2 linked regions of the Homo sapiens genome follow. The protein of the gene in region 1 interacts with the protein of each later gene in a pairwise test. Each region holds a gene or a part of one and is shown in the gene's direction. Other genes may lie near its edges.

Evidence for each region.
Region 2: the proteins of VSIR (region 1) and CLEC7A interact in binary tests that used the Homo sapiens proteins (3 or more experiments, as listed by UniProt).

What each region holds. Positions count from the first base shown.
Region 1 is NC_000010.11:71,749,521-71,756,520, reverse strand, and holds part of VSIR (V-type immunoglobulin domain-containing suppressor of T-cell activation precursor), read left to right. Parts: intron 1-1,054; coding exon 1,055-1,162; intron 1,163-3,518; coding exon 3,519-3,546; intron 3,547-4,659; coding exon 4,660-4,853; intron 4,854-5,230; coding exon 5,231-5,268; 3' UTR 5,269-7,000.
Region 2 is NC_000012.12:10,119,459-10,132,400, reverse strand, and holds the start of CLEC7A (C-type lectin domain family 7 member A), read left to right. Parts: upstream 1-2,201; 5' UTR 2,202-2,318; coding exon 2,319-2,421; intron 2,422-4,555; coding exon 4,556-4,654; intron 4,655-4,958; coding exon of another isoform or gene 4,959-4,990; exon of another isoform or gene 4,991-5,078; intron 5,079-5,692; coding exon 5,693-5,830; intron 5,831-6,952; coding exon 6,953-7,104; intron 7,105-7,227; coding exon of another isoform or gene 7,228-7,314; intron 7,315-9,037; coding exon 9,038-9,156; intron 9,157-12,942.

The sequences.
Region 1 (7,000 bases):
GACCGCTAGGAATTTACTACAGATTTCCTTGCTGAGTGAGCCAGGCTGCGTGCACAAGTTCATTGCTACATTATTAGTTATGCTGAAAATGGAAACAACATGTCTACCAACAGGGGACTGCTTCAATAAATTTAGTGGGAGCCATGTGATAAAACTCTAAGCAGAATGAGGCAGGGGAGACAGAGAGATGTCCAAGCTGTGCTCAGTGGGAAAAGCATTGTCATATGATGCTGCGTCTGCTGTATTTGCAGGGAATATAACTAGGACCATAACACAAAAACCGGCACACAGGGATGATCTCTTCAGAGGGGGTCTTGGTACAAGGGGAGGAGGAGATTCGAATATTTTTTAAACTTGTACTTTTTTTGGTAGTTTAATAAGTTTAAAATTGAAAAACATTGTACAAGGATTCACGTTTTTCTAGTTCTCACCCCGGGTGTTTCTCCTGTGACTTGTGTGGTGAGATCAAGGGGTTCTAGAGGCCCCATCCCAGAGCTAAGGAGTCTCTGGGATGAGTTGGGGCTTTTTATCTATTATGATAAAACATATATAATGTAAAATTTGCCATTTCAACCATTTTAAGCCTACAGTTTGGTGGCATTAATTACATTCACAATGTGCAACCGTCACCACTGTCTATTTTCAAAACTTTCATCACTTAGGCTTCTTTTGACCTTGAGCTCTGTGGCATGGGGTCTGCGAAGGCCCTGCTCTCCCTTTTCAGAGAACAACCTGTAGCCAAGGGTGTTCCAGCTGTACCTTGTGGGCTGGGATGAGGACTCTGTTCCCTCTCTTGCCTGGAGCTGCCTGAGCTGTAGGTGACAGGTCTTGTTTCTGAGTGCTCCAGGGGCATAGGGCGGCAGGCACAGGGCTCTCTTTGAAAGGAGAACCGCCTTATCTTCCATGCCTCTGTAGGTTGCTGGGGGTCTAGCTGTGGGACTCTGGGGAAAGGCGGGTCTCCTGCTTCCTGGCCTTCCCTCTCTGAGCCTCAGTTTATGCTCAGGAGGAGCAATGGGAATGGGGCTTCACCTTGGCTACCTCTCTGCCCTTTCAGACATCACGGCTGCAGCCCTGGCTACGGGTGCCTGCATCGTAGGAATCCTCTGCCTCCCCCTCATCCTGCTCCTGGTCTACAAGCAAAGGCAGGCAGCCTCCAACCGCCGTGAGTATTCCTCCCTGCCTGGGGTGGGTGGACGGTGCGAGTGACCTGCTCCAGCCCCCAGTTCAGCCCCTGGGATTCGCAAAGGCACGATGCAGGCACAATTCCTTTTCATTTGAGAGTTGGGAGCAGCTGCACTTCCCGCCAGGAGCTGGGCGAAATGGCCGAGAGAAAGGAGGCATGCCATTTCCGGGGGCCAAGTGCCCACCAGCCCCTTTGGCTCCCAGGCAGTGCTGGCTCGGCACTCAATACATGTCTTCTGAATGAATGATCATATGCAGTAGCTCAAGTTGCTTTATAAAAGCAAGTTGCTGCCACTCAGAGATCCTTGGGGGACCTGTTTAAGGTATGGGCGTGCTTGTTTTGTAATTAGTAGCAATTGTTGGGACAAAAAATGATCTTTGGAATATCAGAAGTGGAAGGGGTCTTACAGACAACTTAGCTCAACCCTTTCTTTTTCCAGATGAGAAGGCTAAGATCAGTGGGGTTACATAACTGACTGAATGTTACGTAACTTAGTAAGTGGCAGAGCTAGGACTCAATCTCAGAGCTTTCAACGCATGCTCTTTCCAGGGAATAGAAGTCCACCATATAATAAAAATGCTCTCACTTACTCCTCATTGCAAGTCCAAGAATTTGGTCCTACCATTGTCCCCATTTTACTGATGGGCAAACGGAGGCACAGAGGGGTTAAGTAACTTGCCTAAGGAACCACACAGCAAATAAGTGGTGGGGCTGGGCTTTAAGTCATGGGCACAAACATCTTTCACCTCCCACCCTGGCCAGGTGACAGTGCCCCTTGCCTAGTTCCTGACCCTGCCCTTGAGTCTTGGTTAGTCTGAGTCCTCCAAGAAGGGGCTAGGGAGTTTTTTACCCTTGCCTCCCCTCCCTGGCCTCTTCCCGTCTGCCTGGCTACAGAGGTAACTGAGAAAGGATTGCTCTGGTGCCAGGTGGCTTTTGGCTCGCAACTTATTTCCTGTGGCCGGCCCTTAACAACTTGTCATCCCTCCCTCCCCTCATTCCCGGGGGCCCCCACGTGAAGCCCCATAGTGGGTCACTCGGGGGCTGTGGCCACCTCACCCTTGCTTTCAGAACTCCCCTATTCCTCTCCTAGAACACACCACAACCTACCTGCAGGAATACCCATGGCTGGGGGTGGGTGGGGGCAGGTAAAGGGCTTGGAACAGAAGAGCAACGCTGGGCAGCAGGGCAGGGGGAGCAGGTGTTGCTGTGCCCTCCCTGGTGGAAGGCTGGCCCAGAGAGCCTGCTCAGGAATGAGGCACTCTCAGGAAAAAAAGAAAAGGAAAGGGCTGGGAGCCTTGAGGACGGCAGTTTGCTGGAGAGGCCAACAGGTGTGGATTTCCATCCTGCTTTGGACTGAGCCTCAGTTTCCCCAGCTCTAAAATGGGACCAACAACCCTCACCCCAAAGGGTGGCACAGAGGATGAGATGAGGGAATACCCGTGTGCACCTGCACGAAGCCTGACCCATGAGTCGGCTGTAAGCAATAGCCATGGTTTGAATAGATTTCAGGAACTTTTGGGTAACTTCCCTGTGTTTGTTCTGTTGTTGTGCCCCTCCCCCACCATCTGTTTCCCCATCGTAATCAGCAGTAAATCTCCTTAAAACGAGAAGCATCTGTGGGAGGACATGGGGTGCTGCATGAAAGAGGGAAGTTGGGGTCACTGCATCTAATTGGTGGCCAGTTTGGGGGGTGGGGTGTCCCAAGGCTGAGGCAAGCGGCAGCAACTTGGATGAGAAGCAGAAAGTGAGTGAAGTGGCTGGGAAGTGATCGGGGACTTGCACCTTGTAAGGTTTCCCTGAGAGATGTCCCCTAGAATGCCACCCTATTAGGCAATGTAGGGGATAGGACAGAGAGGACCAGGAGCCCTCTAATTAGGAACTGACCTTAAACACTCCCACCCAGTAAGTCATGGCTAAAGACCAGAACCTGGCAAATGTTCAAACAAGAGACACCAGTTAGCAAATTCAAGAGTTGACCTTTGCTCGATACTTAAATCCTGAAGGTCTGACACTGTGTAAGTCAAGCCATAGGAGAAAGCGCTGGCTGCCTTTGGTCTCCTGATGGCAGATAGCGTTCTTACACTCCTGGAAAATGCAGATAGAGTTTCATTTATCAGTCGTCAAAATGGGCCCCTCATGGAGGCCCCATCTGCTGGACAGACACGCAGATCGCTTGCTGGACAGCACCCATGTGAAAAGAAATGGAGTCCGGAGCTGTGCAGGGCCCTCCTGGGCTCGCTCCTGTTCCCTGCAGGGCATCTGCCAGCAGGGGCAGGGATGTTGTATGGGGAAGCCTTCCCTTCCATGACCAGCTTCTCTGTCTGTCTGTCCCTAGGTGCCCAGGAGCTGGTGCGGATGGACAGGTAAGGCCCATGGAGACCTTCTTGAGAAAACTTCCTGGGCCGGCTATCCAGGAAGAGATACTTCTGTGCAGTAGGGGCCCTGTTTAGCTGCCTAGAGCAGCTGGTCAGAAGAGCCTCTGCCATCTGCTGCTGAAGCCTGCACATCTGTGCAGATTGGCTGTTCTCCTGCCACCCCGACTCAGCAGGCTGAGCTCTGATTCTGCTCAGATGTGTCATGCACCCACCTTCGGGTCTCAGTGGTCAGCCTGGGCCAGGATGGGGACAGGGAGGAAGCACTGTCTGGGGCAGACAGTGAGACATGCAAAGGAGGCCAGCGGGCCCAGCCCCAGCCACAGCCCTTGAGCTGTGCCTCCTGCCCGCAGAGAACTCCAAGGAGAAAGCTGTTAGGCCGCTGCAGGCCACAAGGGCAGAGGCTGAGGGGTCCCAGAGTGGTGCAGTGGGCTGGGTCTAGGGGCAGAGGGGATGGGGACTGTGTATTGGTGTGCTCTGGGCAGGAAGCTGCCATGCAGCCTGGCCTGGAGGGTGTGTTCAGGGAACCCAAGTTCCTGCCCCGGTACCTGCAACACCAAACACAAAGCTCCTCTAGGTGTTTGAAAGGGATGATCTTCAAGACAGGTTGAAGGAAGTCCTGCTTGCAACTCATCTAGAATCTAAGAGTTGCAGGGGTCTTCAGAAGTTATCCCACTCCCAACTGGGAAGAGAAGAGAACCCCTCCCCTCAGCTCAAGACAGGCTTTGGGGATGTTCGATCCTAATGCCATCAACTCTATTGACCAAAGAGAAACTTGTCCCCAAATTCCTGAGGCTGAAGTTCTAGAAGTGTCTGTGATTTTTGGCTTCCTGGCTGTGCCCGGGGTTGATGGTCAGACCACAGGGAGGAGCTGGGGTCTGTTCTGGTGGGCCCTGATGCCCTCAGCTCAGGACAGGTGGGCAGGTGCAGCCCATGGCCTTTGCTCTGTGGGCCTGGCTCCTGCCTTCTTGCTTGGAGATGCTGCTGAGGCTTGGGGATGGGGATGTAGGTGAGAGAAAGGGAGGAGAGAAAAACTGGGGGCAGGGAGGGCAGAGTTCACGCTCCGGACAGCACAGATGACCTTCCATTCTGGTTCTGTGGCAGCAACATTCAAGGGATTGAAAACCCCGGCTTTGAAGCCTCACCACCTGCCCAGGGGATACCCGAGGCCAAAGTCAGGCACCCCCTGTCCTATGTGGCCCAGCGGCAGCCTTCTGAGTCTGGGCGGCATCTGCTTTCGGAGCCCAGCACCCCCCTGTCTCCTCCAGGCCCCGGAGACGTCTTCTTCCCATCCCTGGGTAAGTGTTTCCTGACCTTCACAGCACGATGACCTGTAAGGTCATGACCTCATGGCCTGCAGGGCATCGGCCTCACTCCCTGCCCTCCCTGAAGAGTTCCACGGCCTCACGGGGTGGGGTTGAGGGTGAGGGACAGAGGGGCCCCCATTCACCTCCCTGAAGAGTTCCACGGCCTCACGGGGTGGGGTTGAGGGTGAGGGACAGAGGGGCCCCCATTCACCTCCCTGAAGAGTTCCACGGCCTCACGGGGTGGGGTTGAGGGTGAGGGACAGAGGGGCCCCCATTCACCTCCCTGAAGAGTTCCACGGCCTCACGGGGTGGGGTTGAGGGTGAGGGGCAGAGGGGCCCCGTTCACTTTGCTTCTCCTTTTCTTGCAGACCCTGTCCCTGACTCTCCAAACTTTGAGGTCATCTAGCCCAGCTGGGGGACAGTGGGCTGTTGTGGCTGGGTCTGGGGCAGGTGCATTTGAGCCAGGGCTGGCTCTGTGAGTGGCCTCCTTGGCCTCGGCCCTGGTTCCCTCCCTCCTGCTCTGGGCTCAGATACTGTGACATCCCAGAAGCCCAGCCCCTCAACCCCTCTGGATGCTACATGGGGATGCTGGACGGCTCAGCCCCTGTTCCAAGGATTTTGGGGTGCTGAGATTCTCCCCTAGAGACCTGAAATTCACCAGCTACAGATGCCAAATGACTTACATCTTAAGAAGTCTCAGAACGTCCAGCCCTTCAGCAGCTCTCGTTCTGAGACATGAGCCTTGGGATGTGGCAGCATCAGTGGGACAAGATGGACACTGGGCCACCCTCCCAGGCACCAGACACAGGGCACGGTGGAGAGACTTCTCCCCCGTGGCCGCCTTGGCTCCCCCGTTTTGCCCGAGGCTGCTCTTCTGTCAGACTTCCTCTTTGTACCACAGTGGCTCTGGGGCCAGGCCTGCCTGCCCACTGGCCATCGCCACCTTCCCCAGCTGCCTCCTACCAGCAGTTTCTCTGAAGATCTGTCAACAGGTTAAGTCAATCTGGGGCTTCCACTGCCTGCATTCCAGTCCCCAGAGCTTGGTGGTCCCGAAACGGGAAGTACATATTGGGGCATGGTGGCCTCCGTGAGCAAATGGTGTCTTGGGCAATCTGAGGCCAGGACAGATGTTGCCCCACCCACTGGAGATGGTGCTGAGGGAGGTGGGTGGGGCCTTCTGGGAAGGTGAGTGGAGAGGGGCACCTGCCCCCCGCCCTCCCCATCCCCTACTCCCACTGCTCAGCGCGGGCCATTGCAAGGGTGCCACACAATGTCTTGTCCACCCTGGGACACTTCTGAGTATGAAGCGGGATGCTATTAAAAACTACATGGGGAAACAGGTGCAAACCCTGGAGATGGATTGTAAGAGCCAGTTTAAATCTGCACTCTGCTGCTCCTCCCCCACCCCCACCTTCCACTCCATACAATCTGGGCCTGGTGGAGTCTTCGCTTCAGAGCCATTCGGCCAGGTGCGGGTGATGTTCCCATCTCCTGCTTGTGGGCATGCCCTGGCTTTGTTTTTATACACATAGGCAAGGTGAGTCCTCTGTGGAATTGTGATTGAAGGATTTTAAAGCAGGGGAGGAGAGTAGGGGGCATCTCTGTACACTCTGGGGGTAAAACAGGGAAGGCAGTGCCTGAGCATGGGGACAGGTGAGGTGGGGCTGGGCAGACCCCCTGTAGCGTTTAGCAGGATGGGGGCCCCAGGTACTGTGGAGAGCATAGTCCAGCCTGGGCATTTGTCTCCTAGCAGCCTACACTGGCTCTGCTGAGCTGGGCCTGGGTGCTGAAAGCCAGGATTTGGGGCTAGGCGGGAAGATGTTCGCCCAATTGCTTGGGGGGTTGGGGGGATGGAAAAGGGGAGCACCTCTAGGCTGCCTGGCAGCAGTGAGCCCTGGGCCTGTGGCTACAGCCAGGGAACCCCACCTGGACACATGGCCCTGCTTCTAAGCCCCCCAGTTAGGCCCAAAGGAATGGTCCACTGAGGGCCTCCTGCTCTGCCTGGGCTGGGCCAGGGGCTTTGAGGAGAGGGTAAACATAGGCCCGGAGATGGGGCTGACACCTCGAGTGGCCAGAATATGCCCAAACCCCGGCTTCTCCCTTGTCCCTAGGCAGAGGGGGGTCCCTTCTTTTGTTCC
Region 2 (12,942 bases), on another chromosome or scaffold:
AGGCCAGCCTGAGGAAGCCCAATGCTGCTAGGAGAATTTACTTTTTGTTCCAGTTAAAACTTGTTAACAGGCCAGGTGTGGTGGCTCATGCGTGTAATCCCAGCACCTTGGGAGGCCGAGGCGGGCGGATCACGAGGTCAGGAGATCGAGACCATTCTGGTTAACACGATGAAACCCTGTCTCTACTAAAAATACAAAAAATTAGCCAGGCATGGTGGCGGGCGCCTGTAGTCCCAGCTACTTGGGAGGCTGAGGCAGGAGAATGGCGTGAACCCAGGAGGCAGAGCTTGCAGTGAGCCGAAATCGCGCCACTGCACTCCAGCGTGGGCAACAGAGCGAGACTCTGTCTCAAAACAACAACAACAACAAAAAACTTGGTAACAGATAGGCTCCTGAATTCCTTTTAGAGCAGTTACTTTAGAAATCTTACAGTTAGGCCAGGTGCAGTGGCTCACGCCTGTAATCCCAGCACTTTGGGAGGCCGAGGCAGGCGGATCACCAGAGGTCAGGGGTTCAAGACCAGCCTGACCAACATGGAGAAATGCTGTCTCTACTAAAAATACAAAATTAGCCTGGCGTGGTGGCACATGCCTGTAATCCCAGCTTACTCAGGAGGCTGAGGCAGGAGAATCGCTTGAACCCGGGAGGCGGAGGTTGTGGTGAGCCGAGATCGTGCCATTTGCACACCAGCCTGGGCAACAAGAGCGAAATTTCGTCTAAAAAAAAAAAAAGAAAGAAAAGAAAAATAAATCTTACAGTTAAATTCTTTCTCTGCCCTTTGAGAAGCAAATCTACCACACAGAACTGTTTCTTCAAGGACTTGGGAGCTGTTTCTTTGAAATGCAAACATTCAGGGAGATAAATCTTGCTCTTTCTTTCAGATGCAGCATAAGGACCAACTTAGCTGGGTGCTTCACTTCAACTATCACCATGTCCTTCTGTCATATAGATAGGCAAAGTTTCTCTGTCCTCTGGATAAGGGCCAATTAACAAATCCAGAGAGTCTAGTCACATTAACTTTCCTTAACACCACTCAGTATCTTTTCCTTAGCAAACTCCACTTTAAAATGTCATCAGCTTTACTTTTGGGGAAGTTGAGTTCAGTTAATGCTGCACTGGTTCCTGTTGCAATAGTATTACTGAATAAAACCTGTCCTCACCACATTAACTAGTATCCAGATTTGTTGATCCTTGACAACACTCAGATGTCTCCTGCACTCTACTGGCTTCAAGGTCGGATAAATGAGTTGAACACCTCTTCAGTTTCCAGCAATGTTAGGTGTTTTCTATATTTCTTTGATTTGATCATTACTATGGAAACTGGAAGAGAGGGAAAAAAAATCAAACATCTAACATAATATTTCAGTCCCAACACCTTCCATAAGCTGTTCCTTGCAATATAAGTGTATGGAATGATGAAAGAGGCAGTGTAGCGTAACAGAAAAGACCACGAGTTTTGCAGCAAGAGTCAGCTTTGATTTGATTCCTTGCTCTAAATTTTTAAAATTAGCTTCTTAAACCTGAGAAAGAGGCTAAATTTTCTGTCTCATTTTTTCATTTGAAAATAGAAATAATAATGCCTACTATATAGACTTGGAAAAGTGAGATTGAACAAGAAAATATGTACAACATGTGGTACTTAGCTCATAGTAATTGTTCAATAAATGTTATTTTGTGTTAATATCTGATAATTCCCAAAGAGATTTGTTTTCTCTGTCTGTTGTTACAACAATGCATCTCCTCATGCCATCCCTCATTTACCTATCTATATATTTCCTTTATTAAGCAATGAGTTTCTTCATAGGTATCATTTTTCCTTGTATTGTAAGCTCCTACCAATTGAAAAGGTGGGCATCCAGTACCTGTTTATGTAATTTAAAAAATACATGAATAAATACATGAACAAAGTTATGGTAAACTTGGAGCACCAAAACTGAAATAGTTTGCATCGGTTAAATTAATTAATGTCAGACTTAGTTGTGAGAGTAATGAAGGCAGCATAAGACATTAATGTATGCATTTTTCTTACATTTGGTCTGAAACAAAGACTCATCTGCTATGCTGCCTTTTAGTTTTCCTGAGTCAGCAGTCTCAGAAACAGGATCTAAAGGTACAAATGGAAAATTACCACAGCATAGTTTCATTTCCTGCTCTTGAATATCTGGTTGAACTACTTAAGCTTAATTTGTTAAACTCCGGTAAGTACCTAGCCCACATGATTTGACTCAGAGATTCTCTTTTGTCCACAGACAGTCATCTCAGGAGCAGAAAGAAAAGAGCTCCCAAATGCTATATCTATTCAGGGGCTCTCAAGAACAATGGAATATCATCCTGATTTAGAAAATTTGGATGAAGATGGATATACTCAATTACACTTCGACTCTCAAAGCAATACCAGGATAGCTGTTGTTTCAGAGAAAGGTATATATATGTTTTTTCTAATGTGTGCCTTTAGCTCTCCCGTTTGAAAAGATATAAGGGGAGGCTAGGCATGGTGGCTCACACCTGTAATCCCAGCACTTTGGGAGGCCGAGGCGGGTGGATTGACTGAGGTCAGGAGTTCGAGGCCAGCTTGGCTAACGTGGTGAAACTCTGTCTCTACTAAAAATACAAAAATTAGCCGGGCATGGTGGTGCACGCCTGTAGTTCCAGGTACTTGGGAGGCTGAGGCAGGAGAATCACTTGAACCTGGGAGGTGGAGGTTGCAGTGAGCCAAGATCATGCCAATGCACTCCAGCCTGGGTGGCAGAGCAAGACTCCATCTCTGAAAAAAAATAAAAATAAAAACAAAACAAAAAGATATAAGGGGAGAAAATTTGAGAGCCTCGTGATGTGTATATTTTTATGGATATACTTTTAAAGGCTTCAGATGTCACTGAAGATAAATTGAATGCACCCTAAACCTTTTTTCATGAAAATTATTCAGTGACCAATTATTAGTGTTTAAATTAATTATGTCTGATGGCAGAAAATAGAATTTCTCTTTTCTATAGATATAGACATTTCATCAGTGAGGAATTGGTAATAAGTGGGATAATACACAAAGATAAAGGATTTCTGTATGAGTGACTTGTTGCTTGTTTGATAGAAAGGCTAGATTATCGAATGGAGGCCAGGAAACTTAAAGAAGTATATATATGAACAACATTTTTTTTTTGTGGTAAGAGATTAATTTAAATTGTTTTTAAACAAAAAACAATTATTGGTATACCAGTGATGGAAAATATATGAACATATGGTAGATAAAAACATCCCACCAGCAGGACATGAGTCTTAAACAAAGTGTAAATGAAATGAAATAGAAAGAAGGGCATTGGAGGATCTCTGTATTCATAGAATGGGTGATTTAGCCTACTCTACGATTCTCCTATGTGACAATTCTATGAAATGTCCTGACAGCTTAGTCACAGTGGAAAGCAGAAATACATTCTGGTTATGGCAATGTTCATACAAAATTAGTTCCCTATTATCTTTGAGAGAGAGAGATCATTTGTCGGTTTTGACACCAGAGTTTGCTTTCTTCTGCTTTCTGGTTATTCACACTGCACAAATATTTTCCTCTCAGCACTGATGTAATTCTTTTCTTGGGCAACCTATTGAGGAAGCGTGGAAAAAGTGGATGAGGCAAGAGGTAGGGAGACATGCGCATGTTTATGCATATGTGTAGGCAAACGGTATCCTGCAACAACACACCTATCATGTGCTAGCAGTCTCTAAACAAGGTGCTTTTATATGTGTTAGCTCGTTTAATTCCCGCAATAATCCTTTGAGATATTATTACCCCAGTTTCACAAAGAGGAATAAAAAACAACAAAGGGAGTAATTTGCCCAGGGTCATGCAACAAACATATGAAAAGGGAAAATTACCCTTAGTAATCAGTGCTATCTCCCCAACATTAAGCTATTTCCTCTAAGAATCAGTGGGATTTCAGGGATCCTACTAATGTCAAGACCTGTAGATGTCAATGTGGAACTGAAATTAGGAGCATACAGTTATCAAGCCAATGTGCCGAAATTACAATTCCAGCAATTGAAGAAGAAGGTATCCTTACTGGTGGAGAAGCACAGCAAATCCTAGGTGACCAGGTAACCTAGGCAGTGATTAATAATTCACTTAAAAATTTGCCAGTATTTTTTGTTGTTGTTGTTGGTGGTGTGTGTGTGTGTGTGTGTGTGTGTGTGTGTGTGTGTGTTTTAACAGGGTATCACTTTTTTGCCTATGCTGCTCTGGAATTCCTAGGCTCAAGTGATCCTCCTGCCACAGCCTCCAGAGTAGCTGGGACTACGGGAGCTCACCACAATGCCCAGCTAATTAAATTTTTTTTCTTTCTTTGTTTTTCTTTTTTTTTTTTGGTAGGGACAGGGTCTCCCTGTGTTGCCCAGGCTGGTCTTGAGCTTCTGGCCTCAAGCAATCCTCCTACCTCAGTCTCCCTTCTGGGATTACAGGTGTGAGCCACCGTGCAAGGCCAGATTTTTGATGAACTGTAGAATTAAACTGCCCCACCATCCGTCATTCTCTTTCTTTATTCCATTTCTGCCCCCTCTGGCTCCTCAGGATCGTGTGCTGCATCTCCTCCTTGGCGCCTCATTGCTGTAATTTTGGGAATCCTATGCTTGGTAATACTGGTGATAGCTGTGGTCCTGGGTACCATGGGTGAGTATTTGGTGGAGGAGATTAACAACAGACAATTTAGTAAGCAATTATTATGTGCCAGGCACTCTTTTAAGGGCTTGACATGCATAATCTACTTTAATTTGTATATAATCTGGTTTTATCTGTATTGGGTTGGTGCTGTTAATGCCCATTTCACTTATAAAGGGTGTGAGAGACTGAGAGGTTATTTTACCTTTCCAGGGTTATAAGCTAGTTAGTGGTGGGACCATGATTAGAAATTTGGGTGATCTGTCTAAAAAACTCATACTCTTAACTACATTGCTCTCCTACCTCCCTTACATAGCTGGTTTCAAAGCTGTGGAATTCAAAGGATAAATTAATGAAGAAAACAAGCGGAGCTGAAGAAGAAAGTACAATATGGTGCTGTCTTCCTAATGAAATAAATTCACTAAATGGACATTAAGCTATTTTTATGATTCACATTATTTAAGGAAATTATTTCCGATCTTTAATATAAACACCTTTGAATACACCAGAAATTTCCTGAGGCACTTGGTCTTAAGTCGATATTTTGTAATGGATTAATATTTTTTTTACATTTTATATCACATGCAATCTGTTGTCAGTCACCTTCAGAGAGTCTTCATGACATTCCTTAATTAGTCAAATGTTTATTGAGTGCGTTCTATGTTATAGGTACTGGGCAGTTTCTCAAGGATCTCTCATTTTTAAATAACAGAAGAAAGGTGAAAGATGTTGCTATTTCAAATCTGTCATGGGTCCAATTGACTCTATGACATTTGCCTCTTGCTGCCTCCCTCATTCTATTTCTTCTTCTCCACCTTCTTTTTTCTTTTCTTTTTTTTTTTTTACTATACCTCCTTTATAAAAGTTATGTATTTCTTTTCATCTATTCTATCAATCGTCTTTATCTCTCCACAGCAATATATCATCTATTTATCATTAATCAATAATGTATTCTTTTATTCCAATAACATTTGGGTTTTGGGATTTTAATTTTCAAACACAGCAGAATGACATTTTTTCTGTCACTATTATTATTGTTGGTATGTGAAGCTATTTGGAGATCCAATTCAGGAAGCAACACATTGGAGAATGGCTACTTTCTATCAAGAAATAAAGAGAACCACAGTCAACCCACACAATCATCTTTAGAAGACAGTGTGACTCCTACCAAAGCTGTCAAAACCACAGGCAAGGGCATAGTTAAAGGACGGAATCTTGACTCAAGAGGGTTAATTCTTGGTGCTGAAGCCTGGGGCAGGGGTGTAAAGAAAAACACTTAGATTCAATGATTGTAAATTTAAGGCAAATACACATATTAGTATTACCTTAGTGTAATGTATCCCTGTCATATATACAATAAGGTGAAATTATAAGTACCCTATGCAGTTGGCTGGACAGTTCTAAATTGGACTTTATTAATTTTTAAAATCAGTAACTGATTTATCACTGGCTATGTGCTTAGATCTACAGGAGATCATATAATTTGATACAAATAAAAGAAAAGTGTTCTCTCCCCTTACAGAATTGACATTTTAAATGCGATACAGTTAGAATAGGAAATATGACATTAGAAAGGAAGAATGACAGGGAGAAAGGAAAGAAGGGAAAATGTTGCCAAGAATAAGGAAGCTATATTAAAAATATACAAAAGAGGTAGACCTAATACACATGTCCCTGAAAACTCATCAAATTTGTTTAATCATACAATTTCATTTACTTAATTACAATTCTATACACACTTGACTTTTACTTCTAATTGCATCATAATTGACTATGACTTAATGTTTTCAGTTCAATTTTTCATCTCTGGACCCATACCTTCTCACTATTTTTATTAAGTAGCTAATAATATATAACAGAGATAGTGTATAATATGAATAATTGGCCTATACTTTTCTCACTTGGAAAGTCACATTATGAAGTAGATCTTACATCATAAAATAAGTAGCAATATGAAATTGCTGTGTACCTCAATGACTGATTGTGAGTGGACTTATTTTAAGGAGTTATTAAGGAGAAAGGTAGTTTTGAGCTGAATTAGAAGGAATAGAAGACAAGTGAAGAAAAAAAGGATGGTTGGCTGCCTAAAATACTATTTATAGCTAGTTTGTTTTTAAATTTTAAATGAATAGGAAGATTTTAATGTATTCTCATCTGTAAAATCATATCCCTGTAGTTCGAATTGACAATGAAATATAAAAATGGCAACTAATTGGTTATTTCATAAGTGTCCTTAAGATGAATGGTGTTCACACTAAAAGAGTGAATTGGTATGCTATGAACCTCATGGTACTAATCTTTTATTTCCAGGGGTTCTTTCCAGCCCTTGTCCTCCTAATTGGATTATATATGAGAAGAGCTGTTATCTATTCAGCATGTCACTAAATTCCTGGGATGGAAGTAAAAGACAATGCTGGCAACTGGGCTCTAATCTCCTAAAGATAGACAGCTCAAATGAATTGGTAAGTGTAGACTTCTGTTATGATTATCTGTGGTGTGTATCCTGAAGGAAGATAGAGGGAGATTCCAGGTAATGACAATTTTTCCTAAAATGAAGTCTTTTTTTTTTTTTTTTTTTGAGGCAGAGTCTCACTCTGTTGCCCAAGCTAGAGTGCAGTGAAGCCGCGACATCCCAGGCTCAAGTGATCCTCCCACCTCAGCTTCCTGAGTAGGTAGGACTACAGGGTGCACCACCACACTCGTCTAATGTTTTTTTGTATTTTTCATAGAGACGAGGTTTCTCCATATCATCTGGGCTGGTCTCAAAATCCTGGGCACAAGCGATCTGCCTACCTCGATCTCCCAGTGTTGGGATTACAGGTGTAAGCCACCATACTTGGCCAAAATTCATTTTTAATATCTCTATAATTATAATCATAGCATGCCTTAAGCACATAAAGTGCATAGTATATGCTTTTATTTTTAACTAATTTAAAAAACTGTGTTTCGCCTTAAAACAAATCCTTTCAAACATACTCCATGTATGCATGACTACAATAATCAGGACACTACCCATTTTTGTGAGTTTGTATTTCAATTTTTAAATATGGTGGAAGTAAAGTAGAAAATTCTTCTCCTTGTCATCATAATTATCAAGAAAAATGGCAACAATGATAATATATGTTTAGAAATTATTTACTCTTTGCAAGATACTGGGAAAGGCAAAGAGGGTTAAAACATAACCCTGCTATCACAGGACACATATAATCTTTTAAGTAAAAAAAAAGCAACTCAGCAGCTATTAAAAGTTAAATATCTGGCATTAGCAATAAATTCTATAGGAGTTTAAAGAGATCCCCGTGTTCCTAAGAAGTTTTCAGAAAAAGTGGCACTTATAACACATCATGAATGAAGGGTAGAGCTTCAATGAGGTAAGATAAGGGGTTAATAGGAAAAATTCTATGTTATAAATCTAAACCAGTCTATAACTTCTACACCTACTTTCACTATTCTTATTTTGTTTTTGTTTCTGTAATGTCTTACCCAGTAGTAATAATTTATATTAAAGTTAATGGAACTAGATATATGGCAAAGAAAGAGTACTGGATTACAAGTCTATCTGACTTTTAGGCCAGCCTATAATTGAAAATAAATTGTTATAGATTTGTAAACAATTCAGATATCTTCACTGAACCTCAGATTACATATTCATAAAATATACAGTTGGACTAAATTATTTTTAAGTTGTTACCTAACTCTGAGAAGTACTTCTTAACGAAAGTAGCGTCAATTTATTTCTTCAATTGGAGGAGAAGACAATGGCTAATCATCCATGAAAACTGCCTAGGGGGACTGTCATCTGGGATTTTGTCAGATAGGTTGAATGGAGGCAGTACAGTCCTCACATTACAAATCTATTCTTTTGGAAAATTAAATGATAATTACTTTAAATAAATAAGATAGGCCTTTTGAGACATTCAATGACATTCAAAAATTGGCACTTCTCTCTAGGTTGATGTCAGGTTAGGCATGCATTCTTTTTTTTTTTTTTGAGACGGAGTCTCGCTCTGTCGCCCAGGCCGGACTGCGGACTGCAGTGGCGCAATCTCGGCTCACTGCAAGCTCCGCTTCCCGGGTTCATGCCATTCTCCTGCCTCAGCCTCCCGAGTAGCTGGGACCACAGGCGCCCGCCACCGCGCCCGGCTAATTTTTTGTATTTTTAGTAGAGACGGGGTTTCACCTTGTTAGCCAGGATGGTCTCGATCTCCTGACCTCATGATCTACCCGCCTCGGCCTCCCAAAGTGCTGGGATTACAGGCGTGAGCCACCGCGCCCGGCCTTGCATTCTTTACCAAAGTGATTCAATCAGTTGTCTTTTTCTCAGCGTCCATGATAATAGTTTCTTTCTCTCTCTCTCTCTCTCTTTATTATATATTTGTATATGTTTCATTACAGGGATTTATAGTAAAACAAGTGTCTTCCCAACCTGATAATTCATTTTGGATAGGCCTTTCTCGGCCCCAGACTGAGGTACCATGGCTCTGGGAGGATGGATCAACATTCTCTTCTAACTTGTAAGTGTTTGGAGAGACAATGCTTCATCCTTTTTCTCAGAGAGGTTTCCATCTCATCTATGAAAACCTCTGTCGAGCAGCTAAGAACCTGATTTGCTCACCATATATGAGAAAGAGAGGGAGAAAGATATAGAAGAAGAGAAAGAGTGAACTAGGACAAGAGGAGAAAGATGAGGAGGACCTTAGAGTGAAAAAGAGTGAGGCCATCTAGTAGCATCAACACAGATATTCTTCTGGTTTTCTTACTAGGGAGGCATCGACATGTTTGAAGTTGTCCAGGCAAGGAGCAGTCACTGTCAGTCAGTGTAACTCCCCGGTTAAGAGCATGGGTTTTGAAGCCAGGCCTCAGTTTGGGTTAATGATTACCCCACTCACTGATTGTGTGACACTGGGGATAAGTCACTTTTCCTCTCTGAGTCCCATTTTCCATAAACAAGAATAGAAAGGTGCTCTTGGCCAGGTGTGGTGGCTCACACCCGTAATCCCAGCACTTTGGGAGGCCCAGGTGGGCGGATCACTTGAGGTCAGGAGTTTGAGACCAGCCTGACCAACATGGTGAAACCCCACCTCCACTAAAAATTTAGCCGGGTGTGGTGGCATTGCCTGAAATCCCAGCTACTCAGGAGGCTGAGGCAGGAGAATTGCTTGGACCTGGGAGACAGAGGTTGCAGTGAGCTGAGATTGCACCATTGCACTCCAGCCTGGATGACAGAGTGAGACTCCAGTGAGACTCCAACTCAAAAAAAAAAAAAAAAAAAAAGAAAAAAAGAAAGAGTGCTTTCCTCTTAGAATTGTGAGATGGGTATAAAAGTAAAATAATTTAGCACAGTGTCTTGTACATAGTTAATGTGTGAGACTTATTATTAAGTTAAAAAGCAACCACATTTTCACATTTTGCATTTTAGAAAGATATTTTAAACGTATTTCACATTTGCCTGATGATACATTATTCCTTATTATGTGGTTTCTGTCACTGCTGTTGTCATTCATTTGCTTTTTAATATCTGCAGAATATGAAATATGTCTCTTTTAAGTTCTTATTATTAGTGTGTGTGTGCACACCTGTGTGTGTTTTTTCATCTGTCTCAGTAGGAGTACCGTTCAATTTGGTTTTTCAAAGAAAGTAACTTTTGACTTTGTTGACTCTGTCTTTTTATTATTTCTTTCATTAACTTTTATTCTAATCTGTATTACTTCCTTCCATCTAATTTATTTTTATTTTATTTTGTTTTATTTTTTGAGACAGAGTCTCACTCTGTCACCCAGGCTGGAGTGCAATGGCGATCTCGGCTCACTGCCAGCTCCGCCTCCCGGGTTCACGCCATTCTCCTGCCTCAGCCTCCTGAGTAGCTGGGACTACAGGCGCTCACCACCATGCCCGGCTAATTTTTTGTATATTTAGTAGAGACGGGGTTTCACCGTGTTAGCCAGGATGGTCTCGATCTCCTGACCTAATTTATTTGTTTTAAATTTGCTATTCCATCTCAAACTTCTCGTATTGGGTGCTTGCCTCATGAATTTAAGCCTTCCTTTATCTCAAGTATGTAGACTTAAGGCTATAATTTTAATGTATTTTCATTGTCTTTCAGTTCAAAATACTTTCTGATTTCCACTGTGAGCTGCTCTTTGACCCAGGAGTTATTTAGAAATGCATTTCTTAATTTACAAACATATGTGTTTCTGGTTATCTCTTTGTTTTAGGTTTCAGGCTTAGTTCCACTGTGATCAGAGAACATGCTCCACGTGCTTGTAGTTCTGTGATTTTTACGTGCTTCTTCCTCTTTCCATATGAAAAGAATTGTGTTGAAATCTTCCGCTGCGATTCTACTTACAGTTCTGTAAACATTTTATTCGATGTGTTGAAGCCGTGTTATCAGGCACATAAAGATTTAGAATTGTTACTTTTTTTCCCCTTTCTTTCCTCCTTTTTGGACGATTTAACACTTTTTCTTATTCTGTTTTTTTTTTCTGTTCATTTGGAATGTGCTCTTTCATGTCTTTTACATCTCTTTTACTAATCTTTTAGTAGTTGTTCTAGGAATTACACATGTATACTTCACTCATCAAAGACTAACATTAACTGACATTTTTATGTTCTTCCTGACCAATATAAAAATCATAGAGCATTCCTTTACTCTGTTGACTCTCTCCTCAATTTATATGCTATTATATTAATGTATTTATTTTTATTTATTTATTTTTATTTTATCGCCCAGGCTGGAGTGCAGTGGGGCAATCTTGGCCTACTGCAACCTCTGCCTCCTGGGTTCAAGCGATTCTCCCACCTCAGCCTCCTGAGTAGCTGGGACTACAGCTATGCGTCACCAGCTGGGTGTGGTGGTGGACGCCTGTAATCCCAGCTACTCAGAGGTTGAGGCACCAGAATTGCTTCAACCCGGGAGACGGAGGTTGCAGTGAGCCGAGATCGCACCACTGCACTCCAGCCTGGGTGACTGAGCCAGACTCAGTATTAAAAAAAAAAAAAAAGAAAAAGAAAAAAGAAAAAACTAGCCCTTGGGCCGGGCGCGGGGACTCACGCCTATAATCCCAGCACTTTGGGAGGCCGAGGCAGGCGGATCACTTGATCTCTGGAGTTCGATACCAGCCTGGCCAAAATGGTGAAACCCCATCTCTACAAAAAAAAAAAAAAGATATAAAAATTAGACAGACAAGGTGGCGCACAGATTTATGCAGTTAGTATTCATTTCAATTTGCCCACATATTTATGATTTTAGTTGTTTATTTCTTTCTTCCTTTCCAACTGTACATTACAGGTATTTTTTCTTAAGACTGATATTTCCAGTAAGTATAGAATTAGAGGTTTGTTGTTTTTCCTCTCAGCCACTCAAATATATTATTCCACTGTTTTCTATTTTTTACTGTTGTTTTTGAGAGGTCATCTGTTTGAAGGTAATATATGTTTTAAAACTAATGTGTTTACTCAGCACTGAAAAATTCTCAGCCATACTTGCTTCATATTTTGCTTTTCCCCATCTTTTTTCCCTTCTCCTGGAATCCCAGTTACATTCATTACAGACCCATTGACACCATCCTATATGTTTCTTTTGCTTTTTCCTGTGTTTTCATTCTTTTTTAGCTTTTTGCTCCAATCTATGTAATAACCTTTCACATATCTTCCGGTCATCTATTTTTTCTCATCTGTGGCTAATCTACCATTAAAAGCCTCTATTAAGTCTTTTATTTTGTTTGGTGACATTTTCAGTTTTATAATTTTAGTTTAGTTCTTTCTCAAATCTATTATTTCAACACGTATACTTCTACTTTTTCTTCCAACATTCTTAGTATTGTCTTCTAACTTTCAGAATACACTAACCATAGTTGTTTTAGCTTGTGTCTGATAATTCCAATTTTCTATATGTATCTGTTTCTGTTTGTTTTTTTTTTTACTATTTTTCTTTTGTGTTGATTAGTTTTCTCTTATGTCAGATTGCTTTTTATAGTGTTGTTAACATTTTATCTTAAAATCTTTGTAGAATTAATTTGAAGTGTTTTTTCATTTGCCTCTGTTCTCACCACCAGGTCTGTTCACCCAATAGTGTGAACAGTACAAACTGCTGAGCATAATCACTTAACTGTTTTACTTCTACTAGGCTAAGTACAGTGAATTTATTATCAGCCAAATGTATTTTCTACTTTCTTATAGTACTTGTTTGTCTTGAGTTTTCTCTTGCTATTTTAAATGTATGACTAGAGGACTCTTTCTATAATCACAAGTGGGCCCAAGTTAACATTTTGATATGTTACTACTTTTTTGTTTTCCGGGTG